Linked DNA regions of Homo sapiens: region 2 is linked to region 1. Evidence: fine-mapped expression QTL. Tissue or cell type: whole blood. Region 1 holds a variant in brackets; the other region holds the start of a gene. All regions are shown on one strand. Distances are between the middles of the regions.

Evidence for each region. PIP is the estimated chance that this variant, and not a neighbour inherited with it, causes the effect.
Region 2: FBLN7 starts here. The variant in region 1 is fine-mapped to the expression of FBLN7 in whole blood (INTERVAL, PIP 0.96).

What each region holds. Positions count from the first base shown.
Region 1 is chr2:112,515,939-112,521,711 of GRCh38, reverse strand. TTL (tubulin tyrosine ligase) reads right to left here. Exons shown (of 7, transcript NM_153712.5): 6 at 1,287-1,430. Among named protein-coding and RNA genes, the nearest start is that of POLR1B, 24 kb to the left of the region's middle. The variant T/C (reference allele first, on the strand shown) is at 2,467.
Region 2 is chr2:112,134,840-112,140,612 of GRCh38, reverse strand. FBLN7 (fibulin 7) reads right to left here and starts at 2,228. Exons shown (of 8, transcript NM_153214.3): 1 at 1,883-2,228. The coding sequence starts at 1,957. RefSeq lists an enhancer at 1-411.

The DNA of each region.
Region 1 (5,773 bases):
CACTGTGAACCCATGGCCTCATACAGAGCCTGGCCAGGTAGGCAGCACCTGATAAGCACTTATCGGCTGCAGAGACTGATGAACAAGATGGAATCATGCAATCATGCCTGTCGTAACCATCAGGCAATGGCAAAGGCCTAGCTTCTAAGTAAAGAACAACTTTGGTGTGTTGACATCGTCCCTTGCAGGTACGGGACTTTCTCTTAAACATTTTGAAAAATCACTCAATTTCTTCAAGATGTAGATGGGAACCACGAAAGGGTCTTGACATCATGAAAGAGGATCTTCAGAAGAACCCTCAGCACAAGAGAATTGAGTCCGAGTGACTTTCCCTGACACGTAAGGCCTTCCACAGAAGGTCCTCTCTTACCTTCCTTCCTCCTTAATGACTCCATGACGCTCATGCTACAACCAGCCTTCTCCCGAGAGAAGCAGAAGTTCCGGAGAGCAGGTTCTCAGGAGCTTCTGTTCCTCTGGGCATCTCCCAGACCTGCAGAGCCCGGGACAGGGTGAGAGCCCACAGGACGCTGCACCTCTTTTGGAAGACTCTCCCCACCAACCTTTGGTGCAGCGGAACCCTCTTTTCTTGCACCCCAGCTCCAGACCCCCCATGTCTAAGATGCCTTCTCTGACTCCTTCCTGCCTCAGGAGGCTCTGAACTTCTGGGTCGCCACATCATAGGATCCTGCTTACTCAGCTTGTCATACGGGTCTCTCTGGCAGTAATGAACTTTAACACTCTCATGGCATCTCCCACCCACCTGAGCACAGGCTAGCTGCTTACATTTTTTACTTTTGAGACAGGGTCTCTCTGTCGCCCAGGCTGCAATGCAGTGGTGCAGTCATGGCTCACTGCAGCCTCAACCTCCCAGGCTCAAGTGATCCTCCCACCTCAGCCTCCCGAGCAGCTGGGACTATAGGCACACAGCACCATGCCTGACTAATTTCTGTATTTTTTGTAGAGATGGGGTTTTGCCAGGCTGCCCAGGCTGGTCTTGAACTCCTGGGCTCAGACAGTCTACCTGACAGTCTACCTGTCTTGGCCTCCCAAAGTGCTGGGATTACAAGCATGAGCTACCACACTGGGCCTATCTGGCCTATACACGGGGAAATAGGAAAGGAAGTGACTCAGCAAAGCCCCCTGCCAGATAGAGTCCTCCCAAGGGTCTCCTATCACTGTGGCATCCTCCCTCACAGCAGTCAAAGTGACTACACTTGTACCCACAGACTATCCCAACTGCAGAACCAACTTCCCACTTGTAAAAACACAATGACGTGCAGGCTTACTGAGCACATGCAGGGGCACCGTTGACCTCAATGAGCCACACCTTCAGCTCCTCATCGACCATGAAGTCAAAGCCGAAGAGCTGGAAGCTCTGGTAAGGGAGGTGCTTGGTGCTAATGGCAGGCTCCACGCTCAGGAGGCAGTTCCTATGAGGCAGGAGGGGAAATGCTCATTAGAACGGGGTGGTCAAAGGAGAAGGAAGACATGAGGTGTGCTTGAAAGATTTTATATGAGATGAATACAAATATCAGCTTATCAGCTTTAATTCTCTGTTTCCTTTTTTTTTTTTTTTTTTTTGAGACGGAGTTTTGCTCTTGTTGCCCAGGCTGGAGTGCAATGGCATGATCTTGGCTCATGGCAACCTCCGCCTCCTGGGTTCAAGAGATTCTCCTGCTTCAGCCTCCCGAGCAGCTGGGATTACAGGCATGCGCCACCGCACCCAGCTAATTTTGTATTTTCAGTAGAAACAGGGTTTCTCCATGTTGGTCAGGCTGGTCTCGAACTCCCGACCTCAGGTGATCCGCCCACCTCGGCCTCCCAAAGTGCTGGGATTACAGGTGCGAGCCATCGTGCCCGGCCTAATTCTCTCTTTTCAACTTATTACCATTAGGTTACTCAAGAGAATGTTACTTATCAAGCATTTGTTAGAAAACTGCAACCACTCGTGTTCTTCCAGGCAAAAGCCACTTTCCCATGTCTCAAGAAGCAGTAGAGTGCCGAGTCATTGTGGCCTCTGTAAATGAAGATTCTTCCAACAGCTGGGCTGCTGCCATGTTTGTTTATAACACGTAAAACATTTCCATGTATTTTTGCCATGTAAAGAATGGACTGCCCTTTGGTGAAGGGCAGGATTTGCAAAAAAAAAAAAAAAAAAAAACATGTTGACCTCACGATGTCGCTAGTTCTAGTTCCAATGGCAAATTATTGCTAATTACAAGATTTAAGAGCTATACATGTTGAAACTAAATGTTGAAATGTAGAAGTATTATTAGCAACAATGAATGGAAAAATGGCAGGATTTTAGTGACACAATAAAAAAGTTGAAAGTGTATTTTGGAAATACAATGAACAAGTACATGAGGTCTCAGGTCAGACCAAAATCTTGAACAAGTGATTGTTCAGTGAGATAATTACATAAGGAACTTGTCATAACTCCTGGCACCTAGGAAGCATTTTAATAAA[T/C]GTTACTGTTATGAACAATTTTTCATCATATTTCCTTATGATAACCATATATCTATTATTTAGGAAGAATAAATACCTCTTATCTACAACTATCCCAGAAAACCTATGCCATTTCTGTTTTATAAAGATCTTCCCTGATTTTTCACCCAACTGAATGCTGGGGCAAAATATTTCTCTCAGTAAATAAAATGTGCTACAATGACTCTGGTGTACCAGAGATAACTGTCCTTCTACACAGCTGTGTATTTGGAAGGAAAAAGATACAGGGGCCAGCCGGGCGCGGTGGCTCACGCCTATAATCCTACCACTTTGGGAGGCCGAGGCGGGTGGGTAACCTCAGGTCAGGAGTTCGAGAGCAGCCTGACCAACATGGCAAAACCCCATCTCTACTAAAATTACAAAAATTAGCCAGGCATAGTGGCAGGTGCCTATAATCCCAGCTACTCCAGACGCTGAGGCAGGAGAATCGCTTGAACACAGGGGGCAGAGGTTGCAGTGAGCTAAGACTGTGCCACTTCACTCCAGCCTGGGTGAAAGAGCAAAATTCTGTCTCAAAAAAAAAAAAAAGAAAAGAAAAAGAAAAAGATACAGGGAACTGTCGTCCATGTGACTAACTCTAAGACGTAGCTCTAGATGCAGGTTTTGACTCATGACTTTAATAAAGAACTGAGGCCTTTGTGAACTTGGAGCCAGGGTCAATCCTCCGCCCTCGGCCCTCCACAAACTTCAATCTCCTTTTCTTTTTTCCTAAAAAGAAAAATATTTTAATTGATACATTTAAACCTTTAAAAACTATTTTGGCTTAAATGGTTCTTTTAAGATGAGTCATTTAAAAACTAATTATAATAAAAATTTCTTCTCCCATTCATATTCAACCTGAATTGACAAGCACACATCACATTAAAAAAAAAAAATCCCTGTTCTACACAAGAATATCCTTAACTTTTGCTTTAATTAAAATACTCTTGGCTGGGCGAGGTGGCTCACACCTGTAATCCCAGCATATTGGGAGGCCAAGGCAGATGGATCACTTGAGGTCAGGAGTTTGAGACCAGCCAGACCAACATGGTGAAACCCTGGCTCTCTACTTAAAAAAAAAAAAAAAAAAAATTAGTTGGCTGTGGTGGCGCATGCCTGTAATCCCAGCAACCCAGCAACTCAGGAGGCTGAGGCAGGAGAATCGCTTGAACGTGGGAGGCAGAGGTTGCATGAGCCAAGGCTGCAGTGAGCCGAGATCATGTCACTGCACTCCAGCCTGGGAAACAGAGCGAGACCCTATCTCCAAAAAAAAAGCAGGAGACAGGGTCTCACTCTGTCGCCCAGGCTGGAGTGCAGGGGCCCAATCATGGCTCACTGCAGTCAGCCTTGACCTCCCCGAGCTCAAGCGATCCTCCCAATTCAGGCTTCCGAAGTAGCTGGGACTACAAGCATGCACCACCACACCCTGCTAATTTTTTTTGTAACTTTTGGAGACAGAGGTTTGTCATGTTGCCCAGGCTGGTCTTGAACTCCTGGGCTGAAGTGATCTGCCTGCCTCAGCCTCCCAAAGTGCTGGGATTAGAGGCATGAGCCACCGTACTTAGCCTGTTTTAATTAGAATATTCTTTAAAATATTATAATTAAGGAAGATTTAAAAGTTTAACAGATGCTTATGGTAAAAAAGAGAGAGAGAAAAAAATACTAAAATATAAAATGGGGGCTGGACACAGTGGCTCATGCCCGTAATCCCAGCACTTTGGGAGGCTGAGGGAGGCAGATCACTTGAGGTCAGGAGTTCAAAACCAGCCTAGCCAACATGGTGAAACCTCATCTCTACTAAACATACAAAAAATTAGCACTGAGTGGTGGCACATGCCTGTAATCCCAGCTAGTCGGGAGGCTAAGGCAGGAGAATCGCTCAAACCCGGGAGGCAGAGGTTGAAATGAGATGAGATTGCGCCACTGCACTTCAGCCTGGGTGACAGACCAAGACTCTGTCTCAAAAAAATAAGATAAAATAAAATTGAAAGAAGTATTACATTCCAACATAAAGAAAAACCTGAGAATCAGAAGCAAATCAAAACTAATTTTTTTTTTTTTTTTTTTTTTTGCTGAAAGCTCAAGATTAATAATACACTTTAAAGGATTTTTATCCCTCATCAGAGACTTATACAGTGCATCTTTTTTTGGCTGGAGTGGGAAGTTAGGGGGAGGCTAGCTGGAAGGAAAGAAAACCTGAGAGCTGCTGGGAGCATTTATAGCACCACAGCAGCAACACTCTGAACAGCAATGAACAATGCGGAAAGGATGCCGCAAACTTCCAATAAAGCTTTTGCCTAAAATAGGAATTCTTTTTCCAGCATATTTGATTTATCTGGTGTCAGAATTCCAACCACCTATATTCCCTGAAGAAATGGGACTCCAAGCCCTGTAATTATTCTACTGGGCTCTACGTGAGAATACAGTAAGGAAAAAGTCTCAGTCATTGTGACAGGGTAGCATTGACATGGTGGATGGTAGAACAATGGGACAGAATGGAGATCCTAGAACAGACGCTCACATAAATGGCCACCTGATTGATTGATTGATTTCTGAGATGGAATCTTGCTCTGTTGCTCAGGCTGGAGTGCAGTGATGCGATCTTGGCTCACTGCAACCTCCACCTCCCGGGTTCAAGCAATTCTCCTGCCTCAGCCTCCCAAGTAGCTGGGATTACAGGCATATGCCACCATGCCTGGCTAATTTTTGTATTTTTAGTAGAGACAGGGTTTCACCATATTGGCCAGGCTGGTCTTGAACTCCTGACCTTGTGATCCACCCACCTTGGTCTCCCAAAGTGCTAGGATTACAGGTGTGAGCCACTGTGCCCAGCCAGCCACCTGATTTGTAACAAAGACACACCACAATGCAGCGGGGAAAGGACAAGTGGCCCTGGGTCAATGGGATATCCTTGTGGAAAGACATGAAACTTGATATATAACAACTTCAGATAGATTATAGTTCTAAAATATAAGAGATAAAACCCAGATGTCTACCAACTACAGAAGGAATAAACTGAAATACTTATACAATGGAATATTACACAGTAATAAAAAGGATAAACTACTGTTATGTGCAATAACATGGATGAATGCCACAGATGTAACACTGGGAAAAGCTGAACATAAAACAGGAAATATGGTATAATTCCATTTACATAAAGTTTAAGAACAAGCAAAATGAATCTAAGGTGATAAAAGTCAGAAAAGTGGCTGTCTTTGGCAGGGCATTTATTTATTTATTTATTTATTTATTTATTTATTTATTTATTTATTTATTCTGAGATGGA
Region 2 (5,773 bases), 380 kb after region 1:
AAATCTTCTTCCTCCCGGCGGTGCTCACGTGGAGTCCTCGCCCACAATGGACCGACGCTTTCGCAGCCCAGCCCGGGTCCTCCCAGGGGCCCGGCCAGCGATGCATCTGAGGTGACAGGTGGGGGACCCTGCACCTCTCTCTGAAAACTGAACCCCAGCCCAGGCATCGCTCCGAGCTCTCAACCCAGGCATCCGAGTGGAAAGTGGCAAGCCCGGGTCCCCCAGCCTTGGTGCTGCCTCCCCTGCGCGCGGGACAGGGGAGAGAGGAAGGAGGGATGCTGGCCTGGAGAGAGGCAGGAGGGACACTGACCTGGAGAGAGGCGGGAGGGACACTGACCTGGAGAGAGGCGGGAGGGACACTGGCGTGGAGAGAGGCGCGCGGGACAGGGGAGAGAGGCGGGAGGGACACTGGCCTGGAGAGAGGCGGGAGGGACGCTGGCCTGGAGAGAGGCGGGAGGGACACTGGCGTGGAGAGAGGCGGGAGGGACACTGGCGTGGAGAGAGGCGGGAGGGACGCTGGCGTGGAGAGAGGCGGGAGGGACGCTGGCGTGGAGAGAGGCGGGAGGGACGCTGGCCTGGAGAGAGGCGGGAGGGACGCTGACCTGGAGAGAGGCGGGAGGGACGCTGGCCTGGAGAGAGGCGGGAGGGACACTGGCGTGGAGAGAGGCGGGAGGGACACTGGCATGGAGAGAGGCGCGCGGGACAGGGGAGAGAGGCGGGAGGGACACTGGCCTGGAGAGAGGCGGGAGGGACACTGGCGTGGAGAGAGGCGGGAGGGACACTGGCCTGGAGAGAGGCGGGAGGGACACTGGCCTGGAGAGAGGCGGGAGGGACACTGGCGTGGAGAGAGGCGGGAGGGACACTGACCTGGAGAGAGGCGGGAGGGACACTGGCGTGGAGAGAGGCGGGAGGGACGCTGGCCTGGAGAGAGGCGGGAGGGACGCTGACCTGGAGAGAGGCGGGAGGGACGCTGGCCTGGAGAGAGGCGGGAGGGACACTAGCCTGGAGAGAGGCGGGAGGGACACTGGCGTGGAGAGAGGCGGGAGGGACGCTGGCCTGGAGAGAGGCGGGAGGGACGCTGACCTGGAGAGAGGCGGGAGGGACGCTGGCCTGGAGAGAGGCGGGAGGGACACTAGCCTGGAGAGAGGCGGGAGGGACACTGACCTGGAGAGAGGCGTGAGGGACACTGGCCTGGAGAGAGGCGGGAGGGACACTGGCCTGGAGAGAGGCGGGAGGGACACTGACCTGGAGAGAGGCGGGAGGGACACTGGCGTGGAGAGAGGCGGGAGGGACGCTGGCCTGGAGAGAGGCGGGAGGGACGCTGACCTGGAGAGAGGCGGGAGGGACGCTGGCCTGGAGAGAGGCGGGAGGGACACTGACCTGGAGAGAGGCGTGAAGGACACTGGCCTGGAGAGAGGCGGGAGGGACACTGGCCTGGAGAGAGGCGGGAGGGACACTGGCGTGGAGAGAGGCGGGAGGGACACTGGCTGGCCTGGAGAGAGGCGGGAGGGACACTGGCCTGGAGAGAGGCGGGAGGGACGCTGACCTGGAGAGAGGCGGGAGGGACGCTGGCCTGGAGAGAGGCGGGAGGGACGCTGACCTGGAGAGAGGCGGGAGGGACGCTGGCCTGGAGAGAGGCGGGAGGGACGCTGGCCTGGAGAGAGGCGGGAGGGACACTGGCGTGGAGAGAGGCGCGCGGGACAGGGGACAGAGGCGGGAGGGACACTGACCTGGAGAGAGGCGGGAGGGACAGGGGAGAGAGGCGGGAGGGACAGGGGAGAGAGGCGGGAGGGACGCTGGCCTGGAGAGAGGCGGGAGGGACACTGGCCTGGAGAGAGGCGGGAGGGACACTGGCCTGGAGAGAGGCGGGAGGGACACTGACCTGGGAAGCCCGCGGCTCGGGGCAGGCGAGGATCAGGAGCAGAAGGAAGAGCGCGCGCGGAGAGCTGGGCACCATCTTGCCAGTCGGAATCCCGCTGCCTGGGAGGGGAAATAACTTTGCCTCCGCTGCCGAGTTTGTCCCAGCGATGCGGCAGCCGTCCCTGCAGGGTGCGGGGCGCCGCGCGGCCGGGGGGCGGCTGGGGCAGGGGGGGAGGCGGGAGGCCCCGAGCGCAGCGCGTCCCGCGGGGATCGGCGCCGCCCGGGCCTTGCGAGGGTCCAGGTGCGCCCGCAGCTGCCCGCACGAGACAGTCCGCGCGAGGCGGGGAGGCGCCGGCCCCTGGGCTAAGGACGAGGGAGGAGGGGCTGCCCGGCCGGGAATGCGCCCGGGAGCGCGCCCAACCCGCGACGCCGAGGACGAGCGCGGGCATCCTCGGGGCCTGGCAGGGATGGGCGGCCAGTGCCCCGCATATGTGCGGGTGACTGGAAGCCCACCCTGGGCGGGTTCACTCCCGACCGTCCTATTTCCCAACCAAGTAGACTGAGGCTCAGTCACCAAGGACAAGTGGCAGAACAGAAACCCAAACCCAGGTCTGTCCTACTTCAAAGCCCACGCGACACCCTCCTCCCGACATTCCTAGAAGGGGGCCAGGAAATGGGCTTCATAAGCTTGACGTGGGGTGGACTGAGCTCTCCATCCGAATAAACTAGTGTCCCTTTAAATAATGCAATGGGGCCGTGAGAACACGCACGCACAGTGAGTAGATACACACACAGTGATACAGTGAGGGGATCTACGTCCTTCTGATTCACTGTCCTCCTTGCTCAAGGGAAGGAGAAACTCAGTTTAAATCGGAGGTCAGGTTCTAGAACATTGCCTGCCTTGCTGAAGTCGAATCAGGAAGTGCCAGGCCGGCATGAGCAGTCTGAAGTCCCCTGCCATCAGGGCTGTGGTACAACCAGATGCCTCAGACCTGAGCTCCCGGAAGGCATGACTGACGTTCTTCCTGGAAGGTTTTCTGAAGGCAGTCACTGCAGATGTCCTGGGACACACAAGTCTGGTCAAGCCCCAGATCTCTTTTTCCTCTTCCACATTTCACTTTGTTGAGCCCACTCAGAGCTCAGGGAACGGGGAGCCCACAAGACTGTGACCACAGAGCAGGAGCTGTTTCCCAGCAGAGGCCAGAAAGGAAAGCTGGAGTCCTGGCTTAGTCCCTTCAAACTGCTATAGCAAAATACCATAAACTGAGTGGCTTATAAACAATAGAACGTGTTTCTCACAGTTCTGGAGACTGGGAGGTCCAAGATCAAGGTGTCAATAGATTAGGTGTTTGGCGAGGGCCAGAGTTCTGGTTCCCGTGTCCTCACAGGGGAAAGGCAGCTCTCTGGGGCCTCTTTTCTGAGGGCACTAATCCCAATTTTGAGGGCTCTGCACTCATGACCTAGTCACCTCCCAAAGGTCCCACCTCCTAATGCCATCATCTTGGGAATGAGGTTTCCAACATATAAATTTAGGGGAGACACCAACATTCAGAACCTAGCCAGTGCCCCAAAAAGCAGGGGACATGGTTTAGGCTGGCCTCCTGGGCATTGGTTGCCCAGGAAATCCTACAGTGCTGCTCCCCCAACCTTCCCATGCAAAGGAGGTGGAACGGGACCCATGTAAATCTTTTTTTTCTTTGAGACGGCGTCTTGCTCTGTTGCCTAGGCTGGAGTGCAGTGGCCTGATCTCAGCTCACTGCAGCCTTGCCTCCCTGGTTCAAGTAATTCTCCTGCCTCAGCCTCCCAAGCAGCTGGGGCTACAGGCATGCACCACCACGCCTAGCTAATTTTTGTATTTTTAGTAGAGACAGGTTTTCACCATGTTGGCCAGGCTTGTCTTGAACTCCTGACCTCAAATGACCCACCCGCCTCAGCCTCCCAAAGTGCTGGGATTATAGGTGTGAGCCACTGCAGCCTGCAAGGGATCCATGTAATTTTATTTTGCATTCCTGGTTGAACATCCTGAAGAGAGACATGGTCATACCCCTGCTTCTCCCTATCCAGGTGGAGAGGACGGGACAGCATGGCCCGATCCAGGGCAGCCTGTGGAGATGGTGGTTTTCTGCCTCGATCTCTCATGTGTTTGCTGTCTGTACCAAAAGCCAGTGCCCTGCTCCCTCTCTGTCTCTCTGTCCTCTGCCCTATCCTTGAAAAGCTTCCTCCTGGTCAGTGTGGCTGCATTTATTAATATTTTGTGTCCTATCCCACCTTGTGTTTACATGGCGACCTTCTCTGGAAGGCCAGCTGTTCTGGCTCTCAGCCTTGTTCTGGCTATGCGCTGGTAACCAGACATCGGGCAGATGTAAGCAAGCCTTCTTTTCTCTTCTCCTGCCCTTTCTGTGGAGTCATAAAGCTGGAAGAGATTCTTGATTTCACAGATGAAGAAGCTGAATCGGGGCATGGTTGACTGACTTGCCCAAGGAATGCAAACTCTGGTCTCAAGATCCCCCTCCCAGAGCGGTGCTGTTTCTAGGACAGACTACCTTTGACTTTATCCCACCTCTCATTTTAGGGCTACTATGTTGCTTATATTAAATACATGATCATAGCATTTCAGGAATTTTATTTACAGTAATGGGGGGTTTTCTGTTTTTTTGTTGTTGTTGTTTTTTGTTTTCTTGGGTTTTTGCTTTTGTTTTTACTTTTCAAATATTTCTAAGTTTCAACAGGATTTTTTTTCCTATGTAATTATTTATATTTGTAACCCTTTCCCTATGGCTGCCTTCCCTCTAAGTGTTCTGGCATCTGGTCTGAATGAACCTTCTAAGATCTGACTGCCCCAGCAGCACTGTCCTTTCTCTGTCTTTGTCCTCAGCTGCCCTGGATCTGCAGTAATCAAGGCAGAGCCTATCAAGTCCAGAACCTACCAAGGCTGTCTACAAGCAGACAGCCCATGAAAATCAGCTGGGTGCTCTACCTTTAAGCCCCCAACCCTCACCTTTAACTGAATACAATGGGCCTATCAGCCTTTTTTTTTTTTTTTTTTGAGACAGTCTCACTCTATTGCCCAGGCTGGAGTGCAGTGGCATGATCTCAGCTCACTGTAACCTCTGCTGCCTCACAGAGGCAATCTATTCTCCTGCCTCAGCCTCTCAAGTAGCTGGGATTACAGGCACCTGCCACCATGCCCAGCTGATTTTTGTATTTTTAGTAGAGACGGGGTTTCACCATCTTGGCCAGGCTGGTCTTGAACTCCTGACCTCGTGATCCACCCGTCTCAGCCTCCCAAAGTGCTGGGATTACAGCCATGAGCCACCATGCCTGGCCCTTATCAGCTAGTTTATTCCTCTATTTCCCCTCTATTTAGTTTTCAAGAGAATATTCCTGAGTGTCGGGGGATTGGTTTGGTGGGGTTCAACATGTCTACAGAAAGTATTTTAAACATCTTTTGGTAAGATCAGTTGCCATCTCCTTGGATTAGTGCTCTGATACATTCAGGTTCTCTGTGTAACATAGGCATGCAACACAAAATGGGAAGATTTGTTGCAGAAATTTGTCTTTAAGACCCCAACAGAGGCCAGGTGCGGTGGTTCATGCCTGTAATCTCAGCACTTTGGGAGCTGAAACAGGCGGATCACTTGAGGTCAGGAGTTTGAGACCAGCCTGGCCAAGATGATGAAACCCTGTCTCTACTAAAAGTACAAAAATTAGCCGAGTGTGGTAGCAGGCACCTGTAATCCCAGCTACCTGGGAGGCTGAGGCAGGAGACTCACTTGAACATAGGAGGCGGAGGTTGCAATGACCTAAGATTGTGCCACTGCACTCTGGCCTGGGCAACAGAGTGAGACTCCATCTAAAAAAAAAAGAAAAAAAAAAGCTGGGTGTGGTGGCTCACACCTATAATCCCAGCATT